2 separate regions of the Homo sapiens genome follow, and region 2 is linked to region 1. The links come from fine-mapping of genetic effects on gene expression. A gene starts in region 1. The other region holds a variant in brackets. All regions are shown on one strand. Distances are between the middles of the regions.

Region 1 (9,442 bases):
AGCCTTTTCTGCATCTATTGAGATGATCATGCAGATTTTGTTTTTAGTTCTATTTATTTGATGAATCACATTTATTGATTTATGTATGTTGAACCAACCTTGCATCCCAGGAATAAAGCTTTCTTGATTGTGGTGAATTGGATTTGGTTTGCTAGTATTTTGTTAAGGATTTTTGCATGTATGTTCATCAGGGATATTGGCCTGAAGATTTTTTTTTCTGCCAAGTTTTGGTATCAGAATGATGCTGGCCTCATAGAATGAGTTAGGGAGAGTTCCTCCTCCTCTATTTTTTGAAATAGTTTCAGTAGGATTGGTACCAGCTCTTTATATGTCTGGTAGAAATCAACTGTAAATCCATCTGGCCCAGGGCTTTTTCTGGTTGGTAATTTTTTTATTACTAATTCAATTTTGAAACTTGTTATTGATCTGTTCAGGCTTTCAATTTCTTCCTGGTTCAGTCTTGGGAGGTTGTATGTTTTCAGGAATTTGGTCATTTCTTTTAGGTTTACCAGTTCGTGTCAGCACCATCTATTGAAGAGACTGTCCTTTCTCCAATGTATGTTCTTGGCACCTCTGTCGGAAATGAATTCACTGTAGGATTTATTTCTGGGTTCTCTATTCTGTTCCATTGGTCTATGTGTCTGTTTTTATGCCAGTACCATGCTGTTTTGGTTACTATATCTCTTTAGTATAATTTGAAGTCAGGTAATATGATTCCTTCAGTTTTTTTTCTTCTTGCTCAGGATGGCTTTGGCTATTCTGCATCTTTTATGGTTCCATATGAATTTTTAGGATTTTTTTTTCTATTTCTGTGAAGAATGTCATTGATATTTTGATTGGGCTTGCATTGAATCTGTAGAGTGCTTTGTGTAGTATGGACATTTTAACAATATTGATTCTTCCAGTCCATGAACATGGTTTATCTCCCCACTTTTTAATGTACTCTTCTATTTCTTACATCAATGTTTTATAGTTTTCATTGTAGAGATCTTTCACTTCTTTGGTTAAGATTATTCCTAGATATTTTATTTTATTTGTAGCTGTTGTAAATGGGATTACTTTTTTGATATCTTTTTCAGATTGTTCACTGTTGGCCTATAGAAGTGCTATATTGATTTTTGTATGTTGATTTTGTATCCTGCAACTTTATTGAATTTGTTTATATATTCTAATAGTTTTTTGGCAGAGTCTTTAGTTTTTTCCAAATATAAGATCATATCATCTGCAAACAAGGATAATTTGACCTCCTGCTTTCCAGTTTGGATGTCTTTTACTTCTTTCTCTTGTCTGATTGCTGTAGCTAGAACTTCTAGTATTATGTTGAATAACAGTAGTGTAAGTGGTCATCCTTGTCATATTCCAGTCTTAGTTCTGTTTTTTCTTCATTTCTCCCTTACTGGTGCTTCAGAACACTTCACATTTCTGTATTGGAATTCCACAAGCGTGTCTTTCTGTCCCTTCTAGATTGTAAAACTATTTGAAGGAAAGATTTTTATCTTACTGGTAGACTGTTTGGGGAGACATTGTTCACTGTATCTCACAGCGTTTTCCTCATAAAGATTTATGGGGGAAATTTCTCACAGGTCAAGGCTTGCTTTTATTTTAGGGACACAGTTTAATGTATGCCAGATTATATTCCCCCACTTTGCATTGGCTGCTTGGAAGCTCAGAGCCACAATTGTGTCACAGTTCTAAGCAGCGCCTTCTCAAAATCTCCACTTATATACCTAATAGTCTTTGCATTAGTCTCCTATTGCTGCTGTACCAAATTACCACAAACTTAGTGGTTTAAAACAACATAAACCTATTATCTTACAGTTTGGGGAATCAGAAGCCCAAAATTAGTTTCACTGGACTAAAGCCAAGGTGTCAGCAGGACTATGTTCCTTCTGGAGGCTTTAGAGGATAATCTATTTCCTTATCTTTCCCAGCTTCTAGAGACTTCTTACATTCCGTGTCTTCTGGCCCCTTTTTCCATCTTCAAAGCCAGGAGTGTAGCATCTTCTCTCCCCTCTGACTTCTGCATCTGTCCTTACATCTTCTTCCTCTGACTTTGATCCTCCTGCCTCCCTCTTATTTTTGCGATTGCACTGGGCTCACCAGATAACCCAGGTTAATCTCCCCATCTCAAGACCCTTAACTGAATCACATTTGAAAAGTCCCTTTTTCCCATGTGAGGTAATACACTCACAGGTTCTGGGGATTCGGAAATGGGTCTCTTTTGCAGGGGGTCCTTATTCAGCCTGCCACATTCTTTTCAGTGTTAGCTGTATGAAACTGAAATGTTTGAGTCTCCTAACCAAACTGTACCTCTGCCTACCCTTCCACCTCCCTCACCTTCCATATCTCAGTAAATGGCCCTGCCATCTAATAATTGTTCTGATCAGGCACATGGTTCTCTGCTCTCCCTCACCCCCATATCCAGTCTCTCATGTTGTTCTGTCATATAGACTTCTAAAGTGTATCTAGAACCTGTACACTTCATTTTTTGGCCACTGCCACTACCCTAGGCTAAGCCATCACCAGCTCTTGCCTGAATTGCTGTCATAGCCTCTAATTTGTTCTTTACTTCAGCTCTTGCCCTTTCCTAGTCTATTCTTCACAAATCGATTAGATTTTTTGCAAACACAAAGCCAATCATGCTGTTTTCCTACTTAATACTCTCCAATTGTTTCCTATCTCATGCTGAAGAACATTCAAATTCTTCATCATGACTTCTAAGGCCTCATGGTCTGGCCTGGCCCTCTCTCAAAGAACATCTCATTCTGCTCTCTTTACCACCACATTCTGGTCACACTGGCCTCCCTGGAGATTTCTACCTGGCTCAAGCCATGCTTCTCACATGTAATTCTTCTGCTTGGCACTCTGCCAACTCTTCCCCGACTACATCTTTGCTGAGCTTTTGGTCTCATCTGAAATGTCTCCTCCTCAAAGAAGCTGTTCTATACAACTCCATCTAACTGGAGTTCCCTACCCTGCTGTGCACAAATTTTTCTTGATCACTTCACCCTTTTAAGTAGCCTTCATAGACTTATCACTATTGATAATTACTTAGTTGTTGTTTACTTTATATCATTTATTTTCTCCATCATATTGTTAATTCTGTAAAGGCGCAGGCCATTTCTGTTTGTTCCTTGCTGTATGTGATGCTTCATAGGTATGTAGCATAGGAGATCCTGAATACATTTTCTGTCATCCTTACCCTGACTTTATCTTACCTTTTTGGGTTTGTTTTCCTTATGTTCTTGTTTTCTTACTTTGTATTGAAATGAGAGAAAAACTCACAACCCCCAGGCTCTACTCAAGGTTGGGGGCCAGAGGAGGTAGAGCTTCCTCTGCTCCTGTCTCTTCCACCCGCCATCCACTCACTCGCCATTAGTACTGTGTGTTGTGGGCAAAAGAAAAGCTTTCTACTAGTGTTTCTTCCCAGGGAATGTGGGATTCATCCTGGAATGCCAAAATAAGGATGAATTGTCTAAAGAGAAAACCAGAATGCCTTTCTGGACCAAAGATTGAAATTGCTCTGCCTAATAATGTAAACAGTTTATTTTCACTGACTGGGGGCAGAGTGTTCCTTAGCGAGATTAATATGATACTAGCTGCTTTTTTGTCTTCCTCTGGCAAAGGCTAGAGATAACAAAAATTGGGGTTCTAGACTCTAGGGAGGAAGGACAACATTCACAGCTCCATTTGTAGGAGGTGAGGAGGGCCCTTGAGAAAAGTGGGGTGTGAGCGAGTATAGGACATTCAGGAGAGAGATGATCAGTAGGGGACACCCTGGGAGAAAGAGATTCTGAGCTCTTTTCTTTTCTCCGGAGCCCTGACCCTTGAGCAGTGGCACACAGAGTGTCTTCCTTTATTCTCTGGTACAGTAGTCATGTTTCTTGGCACAGTGCCTTGGACCTTCCATACATGCTTTCTTCCCTCCAGAGCCTTCGTCTAAGATGCTGGAGAGTAGCTTATAGCCTGGGCATCAAGTTTGTCGATTCTCCCCAGGACCCTTTTCTTTATAGGTGCCACATGTCATGATTTATGCACAAACATGATTTGCCTGACAGTGCAGTCTGGGCCTGGAATAATTTTAATTAATGGGAAAATGGTCCTCAATACACCGATTAGACCTCTTCAGGTACAACAAGATAAAAGCCTGATAATTTGGATGGAGTACTCTTCTTAAATATCTACTCTGTGCACGGCAGCCAATGGGAAAGCCAGGCTCTCTCCCACCTGATCCAATGAGTAATTAAGAGAGGGCTTTTTCTTCCCTACCTCTCCCCTGCCTCCACCCCGCTCCCCAACTAAAGCTTAACAGGTTGGTGGCATAATGTGGAGACTTTTAAGGGGTGTCATCCTAGGAGCTTAGGCAAGAGCCAGGGTATCTTCTCTCCGCTCCCCAAGCACTGTTCAAGTGGGTTTGAAAAGCAGGCAAGTGAGGGAAGGAAGAAGCTAGAAGCAGGCAAGTTGGGTAACGGCTCTCGGCAAAGTTCGAGAAGTGCCTATGGCCATGAGTGAGCTGGGCACTCGGAAGCCCAGCGATGGCACTGTTTCTCATCTGCTCAATGTGGTGGAGAGTGAGCTTCAGGCAGGGAGGGAAAAAGGCGACCCTACGGAGAAGCAACTTCAGATCATCCTGGAGGATGCACCTCTCTGGCAGAGATTCAAGGAAGTCACTAATGAGATGATTGTGACCAAGAATGGCAGGTGAGTTTATCTGCCGCCCCGCGTGGGCTGGCAGGGCTTGGCAGGAGAGATGAGACCCCTTGAATATTGAAGAGGCTGCCGCTCTTCACTCAGAGGCGGCGGGATCTGATTAAACATGCTTACAGGAACGACTGTCTCCAATGGCTTTCCTCCAGCCAACTTAATTAATTTATCTGAGATCATCAGAGGATGAAGCCACCTGTCTTATGTGCATTTTAAATGGAGAAATTCTGGGGAAATTACCATAAAGTGGGGGGCATGCCCCATTGGGATGGGAAAATGGACTTAAATGTCAGAAAATAATATTAATTTGTGACTAGCTGCATACCCTATCGCAGACCTGAGCCCCAACTCCGTCCAGATAAGGTGAAAGACAACTTTATTTGGAAGCTGGATGATCTCCTCCTAAGTATAGCAAACTTGCCAGAAATGTTTGGCTAGTTGAAGATTGGAAGCAAAAGGGCAAATGTAAACTCATTGCCTATCACTTCATCTGCTTCCCCGTGTGTGTTTGTGGTGAGTGTTCATTTGAGATTGTGTGTGTTTGTGATGATATGAAAGCTGTTGCAGTAATAGTGGATGAAAACATATTATTCTGCTTTAGAGAAAAGAAGATGCCTTCTTTCTTATCAGTGCAACAAATTTAGGGATTAACTGAAACTGATCTCTGGTGGCATTTCTCAGATTCTATTAAACCTAGTCTGCTAAGGGGCTGTCCAGGTAATATTAGAAGATTTCACTTCGTAGAGGAGACGCAAATATTTTGAAACAAAATCTCACCGCTCGCAGCTTGGCCAAACTGGCTCCAACATTCAGCTGGTGTTCACATAGCTTTTCATACACATGGTCACAAAAGTACAAAATGCTGAAAGGCATTTTCAGTAGGCTTAGTTTTGGCTGAACTCTAATTATGACACCCTCGAGAGAATTCTGATAAAAGAGAAGAGCCGAGGCCATCTGAACTTCTTTCTGTCAGGCTTTTGTCCTTGTGCAAAGTGCTTCCGTTCCTGATGTCTCGGTTTTCTATATTTTAATAAAGCACAGTATAGAAAATGAACTATTTCTTGTCAATCTTGAAGAGTTATGAACTCGAGAGCTGTTACATGGCATTAAAATGCTTTCTAAAATGAAAGCCATACCTGAATTAGGGCATTTCAAGAAATTGCGATTATACCAGTAGCAGGAATATCAACCTTGCTTGATTTTTATATTTTCTTTCTCAAAATGGGTTCCACACTTATTTCATATAGATTTATTGCTTTTAATATTGTTACTGTAATTATAGTTCCTTCTCTTGACCTGTATTTACACATTATTTTTAGCTTCTTTCATAGAAGAAAACATAAAACATAGTTTTAATTTCACAGAATTACACCAAATTCTTAATTGGATTTAGTCTCTGACCCTTTAAAAATGGGCAAAGATGCAACTGTAAAAATTTTATTATATCTGATTATAGGTAGAACATTCTGCTTATTTTTCTTTGTATTATTGGATACTAATTACAGTAATACCTAGCCTTATGCTATTGATTGGGCTGTCAAATTGGCCATTTATTAAAGTAAAAATAAGTACAATTACCAAGTCAATATATGGTTCATCTATTTCAATAAGGAATAAATAATAAAAGTTTCTGAAACCATGATAAATTCCAATTTAATAATATGTTACATTGGAATGTACTTTTACCATTTAAGAAAAGTTTTATCTTGCCTTTTTATTGCCTATGTAATTTTCCCCTATATTTAAAATGTAATATTCTTCACATCAGCCCAGTGTGGTGGTGTGCTCCTGTTGTCCCAGCTACGCAGGAGGCTGAGGCAAGGGGTCCTTGAGCCCGGGATCAGTCTGGGCAACACGGTGAGACCCTGTCTTTAAAAAGCAAAATGAAATCCTTCATCTTTAACGTCATTTAATATTAGCTACATGAACAATATTCTTTGTAGAAAAAGTCTGATTGCGGTGAACTTGGCTGTTCTTATCTATGGATGTCCTGCTGTGTTTGCCGTCTTCCTATAGATGAAATCTTTTTCTTAAATTCTCCTAAGCTCTCGGAGCCCTTTAGGGTCAAGATTTTGCCAGGAGATAGAAAGTTTCCTTTATACTTTGATTAAAGAAGGGAAGACAAGTCCATAAGAAATTGATGTACTTAATAATGAATGAACTTGGTCTGAAATTACCCCCAACCTCTTAGTTTCTCAGATTAAACCATTAGTCACACTTTACCTTTGTTAATATAGACATCTTTCTTGCTTCATCTTCTTTACTCCCTTCTTCCTTCTCTCTTTTCTCCCTAACTATTTATTCCTCTATGCCTCCTTTCTACCCATTCTCCTATGTCTATAGACTCTTTGTGTCTCCTTCAAATCCTTGCCCTCCACATCAACTCCCGCACCTGGTGCAGGTAGATTTGTGGCCCTTCCCTGTGGAGAAGAATGTTCCTGGTATGATTACCCAGTCCTAGCCTTTTTCATTCATAATGTCACCTGGGCCCTTTTTCATTGACATTGTCACCTTGACTTTTTAAAAAAGCATCATTTGGGGTGGTAACTCCTATACACTTGAGGTCTCATTGTTCTGCACTAAAATAGCAAATCTTGAAATAGCGTAAGATGGGCCGATGAAAGAGTGAAAAGACTCATTGTCAAGTGGAGATCTACTTTCACATATATAAATAGGAAGCTTGCCTCTGACATTGATCAGAAGCTGTAAAGAGAAAGGCTTTTCTCTGAAAAACACGGAATTATCTCCAGAAACTGGGATCCTGATGTTGGCCTCTCTTCTTTCGTTCCTTCCTTTCTCTCTCTCTCTTCCTCCTTTTCTTTCTTTCTCTCCCCTCCCCCATTCTACTACTTCATTTCCCTTTCAGCCTTTTCTTCCTCCCTCTCTTTTTAAAATTGAAAACTTTCAGTTATTCATAGTTAATAGTCCTTTAGATATAACAGTAATAAGTATAATACCTCCTTAGAGCTCATTTGAGTCATCTCTAGTGTATCCAGCCAGTATTCCCTTTCATGTCCATCCTTTAAGCTGGAAACTTATACTTTAGTTTGCAGAAAGAATTCATTTCAGACTTCAGAGGTTAATAAATTAAATTGCTTGCTAGCATGGCAGCTCATGTCTGTGATCCCAGAACTTTGGGAGGCTGAAGTGGGAGGATTGCTTGAGCCCAGGAGTTTGAAACCAGACTGGGCAGTATAGGGAGACTTCTTCTCTACAAAAAATTTAAACAACTAGCCAGGAGGCCCAGGTAGGTTGATCACTTGAGCTCAGAAGTTTTAGAACAGCCTGGGCAACATGGAGAAACCCTGTCTCTCCAAAAAATACAAAAAATTAGCTGGGCATGGTGACACCTACCTGTAGTCCCAGCTACTTGGGAGGCTGAGGTGGGAGATCACCTGACCCTGGGGAGGTCAAGGTTGCAGTGATCACACCACTGCACACGAGCCTGGGCAACAGAGTGAGACCGTGTCTCAAAAAAAAAAAAAAAAAAAAAAAAATCAAATCTCTTGCTTTTGTTTTCTTTACTTGTAACATTTTCACCTAAGGGGAAAATGCCATATTTCTTGTCATCATAAAATAAGAGGTGGGAATTACTAAGTTTAAATTTGCCGATTAGTTTCGATGATTCACCAGTGCTTGATGATTAAGGGGTATTGGTGCAGTGCCACTGAGTTGCTGTTCATAGTCTCCAGTAAGGGCAGTACAAGAGAGGAGAAAAGTAAAGTTGCACATCAGGCCAATACATTTCCATGTCCCTACAGCCCATGGGTATTTTTCTCTGAAGTTTAAAATTACAGCTCAAGAAGATCATATGTATTTATGTAATCTGCCTTTAACCAGGCCACCTTGCTTCCCTAATGCTGTTGTTTTTTTCCCTTCGTTTATTTATCTTTAATTGACACCTGTTGCTATTCTTATGCCTGCTCACCTTCACATAAATGTCAGCATCCATGCACCATGTATGTCACACACACACACACACACACACACACACACACACACACCCCTCTAAAAGTTCTGATGAGTATTTGATAAATAGTAGAGTTTTGAGGAGAGATGGAGGAAAGTGTTTACAAGTTTAACTTTTTGAATTTGCTTTTAACTCTCTGCTGTTCCCTCACCTGTAAAATCTGCCTCATCTCTGCCCCTCTTTCTTCTTGCAAACCTCACTTCTCATAGCCTCCTCCAGCAGCACTGACTTCTGGAGATTCCCTGTCAGTGAAATAAAACTGGAAAGCTGGTCTCATAATAAAAGCCCAACAGTTTATGGGCAAAGCCCAACCACCTGTGGTTCTTCAGGTGTGGTTTTCTTGAGGAGTGCTTATTTACCCTGCCACATTTTCCTCTCTTTCTCTCCAAGGAGGCTTTCTCTCCAGGGTGGATTAAGTGAAATTATGCTGTTACTTAGGGACTGATTTACATATTTCTTATCCCTCACACTCTGGGTTTCTCTATGTTAGCTACATCTAGGAAAAAAATGGGGAAAAAAATCACCTTGATTGGAAGTGCAGTTAATTCCTGAAAATAAAGCCTGATCACGAGTGGTAATCACAGATCAATTAGTTACTGGATCCCTAGATAATGCATCCCTGTCATTGTGAGACAAAAGAGGGGAAAGTGGGGTGGGAGGAGGGGAACTTGGCTTGGAGGCAGGGTGAGTTCCATTCCCAGTTACAAGACCTTAGGCAAGTTGACTGACTTTTATTTATTCCTCATTGCCATAATAGGGAATGTATTA
Region 2 (9,442 bases), 39 kb before region 1:
TGTGTGTATGTTTTTTTTTTTTTTAAATGACATGCACATTTGAGTGGTAGACTGTTTATATTTTGATTTTTCTTCCAGGGCAGAAATTGGTACCTATATACACACACCTTGCTTTGCTTATAGACTGATTTTGAATCCAGTTTCAGAGGTTCAGCATTCATATGGGTCCAGCTGAATGGTGATATTCCCTTCAACACTCATGTGTTCTGACTGTGTTTGCTTTTCTAAGGGCTAACTTACAGTCTGCCTGACACACAGTGCCTGGTTCTTTAGCATTATGGAGCCTGTTCCTTGTATATGGTTTCCTTCTAAGTGACAGGGCTGAGCTAACTGGAATTTACCAAGATACCTTTGGACGTACTACATTTTCACTCATAGAGTAGTTGGTAGCATTTTTTTCTTCTTCTTTTTTATTCTCTTTTCTCTTCTTTTAAAATTAATAGGAGCAGAGCAGAAAATTTATCCCAATTAGGTAGAAGTTAAATTCTGTTTAGAATTTATAAAATGTTAGGAGTTCAACTGTGCCAGGTATGGGTGGCTCACACTGTAATGCCAAGACTTTGGGAGGCTGAGGTGGGAGGATTGCTTGAAGCCAGGAGTTTGAGACTAGCCTGGACAGTGTAGCAAGACCGGGTCTCTGCAAAAAAACAAACAAACAAACAAAAAAAAACATTAAAAAATTAGCCGGGCATGGTGGCACATACTTGTAGTCCCAGCAATTCTGGAGGCTGAGGCAGGGGGATTGCTTGAGCTTCCTAGACTTGAGCCTAGAAATTCAAGGCTGCAGTGAGCTATGATTGAGCCACTATATTCCAGCAGCCTAGGTGACGAGCACGACCCTGTCTCAAAAAAAAAAATAAATAAATAAATAAAGGAGGGGGGTGCGGTTCAACTGTTCTGGGTTTTATTTGATATTTTTTCAGAATAGAGTTTCTGTGCCATCTGGGTATTTGAAATCTGACTGTTTAAGGTGATTGTTGCTAGTTCAAGGTTATAGCAGTACTGCATTGAGGCCGAGGTCATACGGGTTATCTCCACATGAACCTTTTGCCCTTCTTCTGTGGCTGCCTATCTGTACATGGCCATAGTGTGTGTGTTTGGGTACACGTGCATGCACATGCGTGGGCCTTTGTGTGCACATGCTCATCCCCCAGGCTGAGTATGGGAGAGGGTCTGGATAGATCACTGCAGGTATTCTTACAGCTCAGAAGCCCATTCTGCTGGATAATCTGCTACTCCCTTCATCTCATTTGACCCTTTGTTTTGTTTTTCATTATAGGTACAGCCTTTCCTTCATACCATTTGCAAGGTAAGACTGTGTATTTGGAAATAATGATTTCTGTCATTTTAATTCAGAGTCTGCTTTCAGAGAGTATAGCCTATTTTATTTATCTTTACTGAAGTCTTTTGAGTCAAGTAGACAAATACTATACATCTCATTTATAGATAAGTAAGTTAAAGGTCACCCCACCACCCACTCTAATTATACAACTAATGATGGATATTTACCCAGGTACACTGATTTCCAATGCTGTGAACATTCTACTCTTATATATGGTGCATATATGCACATTATTACTCTTTTAACCCGTAGCTTTGAGTAGGGTTTTTTTTTTTTTTTTTTTTATAAAGGTGAATGTCATTTCATATCACTGAGTAAGATATGGAGGGATCTCAATTCGTGCTTCTTGCAGTATCCCACTGCTGGGAAGGTTTCACAAGAGTTTATAAAGGGAGAGTAAGCAGTACCAGGGCTTCCTAATTAGCAGTGTGACCTCGAGCAGCTCTCTTGACCCCTCTGGCCTCAAAGCATCGATAAGTAGACTGAGTTGGTCTAGATCATCTCCAGAGGCCTCTTTTAGCTCTGAAATTCTAATACTCCATACCTCTTTAAGCACTTTCAGTGACGGACCTCTCAAAATTAGCCGCATGATCTTTGCCTCTGACTTTGTTCTAATGCAACTATTTAACTTCTGTTCTTTTTTTTTTTTTTTTATCATTACCTGTTAATTAAAAACAAGCTTTTTAAAAAAACTGTACTGGGCCAGGTGCAGTGGCTCACGCCTGTAATCCCAGCACTTTGGGAGGCCGAGGCGGGTGGATCCTGCTGTCAGGAGATCGAGACCATCCTGGCTAACACAGTGAAACCCCGTCTCTACTGAAAATACAAAATATTAGCTGGGCGTGGTGGCAGGCGCCTGTAGTCGAAGCTACTTGGGAGGCTGAGGCAGGAGAATGGCGTGAACCCAGGAGGCGGAGCTTGCAGTGAGTCGAGATGGCGCCACTGCACTCCAGCCTGGGCGACAGAGCGAGACTCTGTCTCAAAAAAAAAAAAAAAAAAAGTACTGAGGAAATGAAAAATTATGCATGACTTGGGAAGGAGGAAGAGCAATCTTATGTCTTAACAAATTCCAAGACTGTTGCTGACAGTGATTTGAAAGTATTGAGGAGTGATTGATTGGATGCGAAGTTAAGCCTTTCAAGTGAAAGGCAGCTGAGTGGCTTTGTTGATAGATTCTAGGAGGGTAACAGTTATGAAATACTCCATGCAGACCTGGCTGGTTTTGGGGCCTGGTGGCTTGTCTGAGAAGAATATGGGCAGGGATGTCCTGGGAAGCTAGATTTTTATGTGAAGTAAACCGGAGTTCATCATTACTGAGGATCCAATGAGATATTGATCAACCTGCCAACATATGAATATTTTTTGGTCCCTGAACCAGCTGCATAGTTTTCAGGGCCCAGTGCAAAATAAAAATGTGAGCTTCTTGTTCAAAAATCATAGGCCGGGCACGGTAGCTCAGCCTATAATCCCAGCACATTGGGAGGCTGAGGTGTGCGGATCACGAGGTCAGGAGTTCAAGACCAGCTTGACCAACGTGGTGAACTCCTGTCTTTACTAAAAATACCAAAATTAACCGAGCGTGGTGGCGTGCACCTGTAATCCCAGCTACTCAGGAGGCTGAGGCAGTAGAATCGCTTGAACCTGGGAGGCGGAGGTTGCACTGAGCCGAGATCACGCCATTGCCCTCCAGCCTGGGCAACAGAGGGAGACTCTGTCTCAAAAAAAAAGATTAAGAATTTCAAGATGGCAACATCAAATCAAGGCATTAAACCCAATGTGGACCCTTCTGAGTATGGGGCCAATGCAGTTGCACAGGTCTCATTCGTGAAACTTGCTTGGAGTCATTTGTCAGAGCTTCAGTCTTGATCTGGATTGGCATGTATAAAATTTATGTACAAGTGATTGATAGAATGAGGGAATTTTATTTGAGATAGTGAGTTTCATGTGCTGAGGAGACGAATTACTCCTCTAGTAGGGAGGGAATCACAGAGCTAGATCCCACCCTTCTATTCTTTTTTTTTTTTTTTTTTTTGAGATGGAGTCTCACTCTATGGCCCAGGCTGGAGTGCAGTGGCCCGATGTCAGCTCACCTCAGTCTCCAACCTCCTGGCTTCAAGCTGTTCTCCTGCCTCAGCCTCCATGTGCACGCCACCATGCCAGGCTCATTTTTTGTATTTTTAGTAGAGATGGGGTTTCACCGTGTTGGCCAGGCTGGTCTCGAACTCCTGACCTCAAGTGATTGGCCCACCTCGGCCTCCCAAAGTGCTGGGTTTACAGGTCCGAACCACCATGCCTGGCCCCACCCTTCTATTTGTAAGTTCCCCTGGAATAGCTTTTCCCACAGTGTTCCACAGAAATAGTGTTTCTGTGGAAGAAAAGAGTTCTATGATCAAGTAAGTTTGAGAAACAGGTTAAGCAAAATTAGGTAGGTTCCTCTTTGCCTGGCTTGCTAGATCCTTCCATATGCTATGTGTATTGTGAGCTGCCATGAGGGGGACTTATGTGGCCATAAAACCCTTCTTGTGCAGAGACTCTTCTGAGACTACAGTGCAGAGTATATCTCAAGAAATGCTGCCCTGGAACCATCTTGATATTAAAATGCAGTGCCTACTCATGGAAATGCATCCATTCACCTCTCCCTCCCTTATGTGACTCCCAATGTCCTTAGTGCAGCACAGTTGAGAACGTGGAACAGAGCTGGGGTATGAGAAGCCTAGTGCCACATTGCACAGTGTGGTGTGGTGGTGGAAATGGAAGTGCTTGCTTGGGTAGAATAGTAATTTCTTGAAGACCAACTCTTCCTTGCACCCTCTACACTGAATTCCAAGCAGTAAATACCTGTGATAAGGCCATTATAGCATATTAATAAGTGCTCAGGACCCATAGTGAGCTCCCTTCTGCTGCCTGCTTAGAATGAAGAAAGGTCCCAGTTAATATTTGATTTAATGCTGTCAGTGCATTCTGTGATTTTGACCGATATTAAAGTGCAGCAATCCTGACTGATTTCTTAGTTTCTGACAGTCTATGTTATCTTTTTCTCTGATTATGATGGCTAATCCCATAATCAGACTGTCGGGTAAGTGGGGACATCCCCTCTTACAGATGAGGAATTTGAAACTCAAACAGGACAAGGAACTTTCCCAGGATAGTACTACTAATAAATGTTGAAGCTGCAGTTTGATGCTGTGAAGGTCTGATCTTTCAGTCTAGGTGCTTTCTACTCTGCAGCTTCCACTCTGGGTGCCCTCTAAAGGAGTGCCTTTGGGGTGATGACGTTCCACTCATCTTTGTGTCTTTTCTTTCCTAGGGATGCTGTGAAGAAGTGTTTTGCCGTGTGTCTTGCATAATTCATGGCCAGTTTTATGAAGCTTTGGAAGGCACTATGGACAGAAGCTGGTGGACAGTTTTGTAACTATCTTCGAAACCTCTGTCTTACAGACATGTGCCTTTTATCTTGCAGCAATGTGTTGCTTGTGATTCGAACATTTGAGGGTTACTTTTGGAAGCAACAATACATTCTCGAACCTGAATGTCAGTAGCACAGGATGAGAAGTGGGTTCTGTATCTTGTGGAGTGGAATCTTCCTCATGTACCTGTTTCCTCTCTGGATGTTGTCCCACTGAATTCCCATGAATACAAACCTATTCAGCAACAGCACATAAGCCTTGGGTGCAAGTGATTCCCAGGTGGCAAAAGGCAGCC[C/T]CATCAGAGATCACGGGAGCAACAGTAAGGGACAGAGTTTTGGGGTCCACTTGTCCCTCAGCATGGAAGCCATCACCGTGGTCCTGCATAGAGTGAGTCTGCTTCTACTCTGGCATCTGAGAACAAGTGACTCTGCTTTAGACAAGCCCCTGGAGAGCCTGGCCATGGAGTGAGGTAGAAAAGAAGCACTTTTTGGTGGTATATGCTGTTTCTGAATTTGAATCTAAGCATTCTTGGTGTTCTGATTCTGCGCCTGACTGTGGAATGTATTTTCTGACATTAGGTGCAGACTCTTTTTCTCTTGGGTTTTATTTCCCATCCCTCCCTCCCTCTCCCTGCATATCTTTCTTTATGACCTCCTGGCACTAGATGGGGAAAGAACAGAGCAGCAGCAGAAAATGCTGCTGTTTTTTTTTTGGACGAGAGCCCATAGGAGTTGAAAAATCCTGCTGCTCTCAGCTATATTTTTTTCTCCATTATTTATAAATGTTTGCTTTTAAACTGATTTTATTTTCCATTCTCCCCTGGAGTTGGGCCAGGGGAGAGTGGGGTGGGAAGACAGATCCCTGCTGTGCAGCCAGCAGGAAGTAGGCACGCCTGCCCAGTGACCTTTAAATAGTCCCAGTGTTTGCACTTAGCCTGTGCTGGGGACACTGGGGATAAACTGCAGGTGGTCTCATGTCAGCCTGATGCCTAACCTACAAAGTGCTTTTGTGTCCACGATCTTACCTGGTTCTTATGGAGAGCCTTGTGAGGAAGCAGGGATTGTTATACCACTGTGCAGTCAAGGGAATCAAGGCCCACACTGGTTTTTGGATCCACCCAAAGCCACAGCTTCAGCCTCCTTCATGACCCCAGAGTTTCCTGGCCTGTTTCTGGTTGTGCCTCCTGTAACTGCCTGTGACTGTTTCCCTCGTTTTCATCAGCCAAGCCATCTCCTCCCTGGCCCTCCCTGCCCATCTCTTTTGGAAGCTTCTTCCTGGATCTGCAGGATGTTCACTGTCCCTTGTGTTCCCTTTCAGCTCCTCCTTGTTGCCTGACTACGATTAGTGCCCTGTCTTGTCAGCCAGCATTCCTGGCCCTCCAGGACCTCCAGAGTCATCCTACAAATGACGTTTATCTGGATTGCCTTTCTGTTCTTTGCACAGGGCCAACTGGTCCACTAGGGCTCCTCCTCTGTCACTGCTAAACCAAAGGAAGTGGCCTGCTGGTTGTCCCCTTTCTTGTGGCTAATTGCTGAACCTTTCTTTGTCCTACTGTGGCTAAGAACTCTGACTGGTTTTTTTTTTTTTTTCTTTTTGAGATGGAGTCTCACTCCGTCGCCCAGGCTGGAGTGCAGTGGCGTGATCTCTGCTCACTGCAACCTCCACCTCCCGGGTTCAAGCAATTCTCCTGCCTCAGCCTTCCAAGTAGCTGGGATTACAGGTGCCCGCCACCACGCCCGTGCTAATTTTTGTGTTTTTAGTGGAGACAGGGTTTCACCATGTTGGCCAAGCTGGTCTGGAACTCCTGACCTCAGGTAATCCGCCCACCTTGACCTCCCAAAGTGCTGGGATTACAGGTGTGAGCCACTGTGCCCTGCTGATCTTTTCTTCTGAGGCTGGGGAGGTGTGAACAAGCCTGACGGGGCCAGAGAGAGGAGCTAGTCTTCCCAGGTTCTTTCTAGGCTATTGATGACATCCAGTCATCTGCTCAGGTCACTAACCTGTCCTCAGCCAGGAAAGGAAATTTTATGCTACCCCTCTGGCTTTTGTGGGATTCTTTCACATCCCAGGTGCCTCTTGGAGACAGATCTCAGAAGGGCTGTGGTGTCAGAAGGGACATGGAGGAGGTCAGGAGGGCTCATGGTTCCTTTTCTTTAGAACTGATACGAGGCTTGGCTAGTCACTGTGAGCTCCAGCAGCTCCAGCAGCCTGGAATAAGACACCTAGAAGGCTCATCCCTCCATGTCCATGTCCTTTTTTTTTTTTTAGATTGAACAACCATGCTTTGTTTAAAAAATAATCTCAGCAAACTAGGGATACAAGAGAATTTCCTCAACCTGTCGAAGGGCATCTTTAAAATATCTACTGCTAACATCCTATGTAATGATGAAAGGCTGAATGTTTTCCCCTAAGATTGAGAATAAGACAGAGATGTCAACTCTTACCACTTCTATTCAACGTTGTACTGAAAATTCTAGCCACTGCAATCATGTTTTAATTGGGAGTAGGGGGAAAGAGGGAGGGAAGGAGAAAAATGAAAGGCCTTTAGATTGAAAAGAAATGAGTAAAACTGTCTATTCACAGATATTATCATCTATGTAGAAAACCAAATCAAATCCATTACTAAGTTACTGAAACCAGCAAGTGAGTTTCGCAACACAGCAGGATATATAATTGATATACACAAATCAATTGTGTTTCTCCATGTTAGAAGTAAAGAATTAGGAATTGAAAATTTAAAAATAATACCATTTACAATAGCATTAAAATATAAAATTCTTGGGAATAAACCCGACAAACTATGTGGATTATCTGTACACTGATAACTAAAAAGCATTGCTAAGAAAAATTAAGACCTAAGTAAATATCTTGTTGATAGGTTGAGAGACTCAACATTGTTGATGTTAATTCTTTCCCATATTAATCTATAGATATAATGCAGTCCCCATCCAAAGCCAAGCAGGCTTTTTTTTTTTTTTTTTTGTAGAAATTAAAAACTGGTTTTAAGATTCACATGGCATGCAGATGATCTAGAAGATCCACAGTAACTCTCCTGCTGTGCAGCTGGTTCCTAACAGGTCATGGACCTGTCCATGGCCTGTAGGTTGGGAACCTCTGCTACAGAGGATCCAGATTTAAATTCAGAAGAAGCTTCATCTATTTCTGTAGTTTCATTTTCTTGCAATAACTGCTGCATCAAACTTGAACTTCGCAGGATTTTCTGAAGCTGCTCAATTTGGCCATCTTGCTTTTTAATTGTATTTCTTAACACTAGAATTTTCTATTTCAAGTTTTTGTACGTGGCCTTGCGTCTCCTTAGTACATTTTATAGTCGCTGTAAGTTGATTCCATTTTTCTTGAAATTGAATTCTCATCTGACCTAATTTCTTCCTTGAATCCTACATCTCACTTTCTCAATGGACGCAGTGACGCAATGAAGCATCCAGCAAAGCTTTTGTTGTTGATTGTTTAGGACGTCACCCTGTTTTTGTTGAAGTTGTCTCACAACTACTTCTCTTTCTGCTTTCTCTCTTTCATATTGACATTGTTTTTCTTTCAAATGATTAACTTTATTGATCATCCTCTTGTTCTTCTAGCAAAAGACGGTGCTTTATGCACTCAGCTTGAAGATTTTGTGCTGTAGCATCACATTTGGCTTGACTATCAATTACTGTTTTTTCTTGATTGTCAGCTTTGTTGTGAACATCATCCAGTTGCTGTTGAAGCAACATATTTTGTCTTCGTAGTTGACATAATCTTACTTGCTTTTCTGTGCATTTTTCTACTTTATCTTGGCCACTTGTGTACATTTTTTCAATGTCCTTCATTTGACACCGTTTGGTTTAGCTCTCTTTGTATGTGTTCAAAAACCAAAGCGTTTTCTTTCAGAGCCTCTCTTGTGTTATGGAGCTCAGTTTTGAGGCACCTGGACTTACTCTCAGCTTTAGAAAGTTGCTGAGAAAGAATCAGAACATGAGAATTCAAATTTTCCTGTAAATGACGCAATTTATCTACTGTGCCCTGGAAATCAAGCTCTTGGTCTCTTTCTGTTGAGTGACTTTGATCATGATCATGTAGAGCAACATTCAGTCTACGATGGTATGATTCCATTTCGTCAGTCTTTGCCTGCTTTGTTTTTCCTTCTCCAGTTTAGAACGGAGCATTGTGTTCTCATCTGTCAGAGCAGTAAGCTGTCCACTATAATGGGCTATCGTTTTTGTTGATTTTTCCCCATTCTGTTTTAGAGCCTTTTGAAGGTCTTCATGCTTTCTTTTTATAATTTCAATGTCTTTTAAGTATTTCTTTTCCAGGATTTGATTTTTTATTGTGTGTATTTCCAGCCTGAGCCTGGCAATTTCATCTTGCATCAAATGGTTTTTATGCAACAGGTCTTCTTCTTTTTCATGACTATCAGAAATCTCAAACTGCAGAGTTCTTGTTCCCATTCAAGTTTTTGATATTCTGTGATATTTCTTTTTTTTCAGATAGTCTCTTTTGTAGTACACTAGTCTTTTTCATTTTTTAATTTTTACTGTAAGTCACTCAGTGATTATCTTTAAGTTCCACTGATCTTTTACATAAATAAACTGCATTTTTAATTTTCTTTTTTTATATGAGATTCTGGAAATACTTCTTTTTTTAAATTATACTTTAAGTTCTGGGGTACATGTGCAGAACATGCGGGTTTGTTACA

Evidence for each region.
Region 2: its variant is fine-mapped to the expression of TBX19 in whole blood (TOPMed, PIP 0.91).

What each region holds. Positions count from the first base shown.
Region 1 is chr1:168,276,593-168,286,034 of GRCh38, forward strand. It overlaps TBX19 (T-box transcription factor 19), which reads left to right and starts at 4,285. Exons shown (of 8, transcript NM_005149.3): 1 at 4,285-4,701. The coding sequence starts at 4,499. RefSeq lists an enhancer at 8,593-9,094.
Region 2 is chr1:168,237,852-168,247,293 of GRCh38, forward strand. It overlaps SFT2D2 (SFT2 domain containing 2), which reads left to right. Exons shown (of 8, transcript NM_199344.3): 7 at 1,280-1,309; 8 at 4,650-9,442. The coding sequence ends at 4,689. It also overlaps the pseudogene ANKRD36BP1. Among named protein-coding and RNA genes, the nearest start is that of SFT2D2, 17 kb to the left of the region's middle. The variant C/T (reference allele first, on the strand shown) is at 5,045.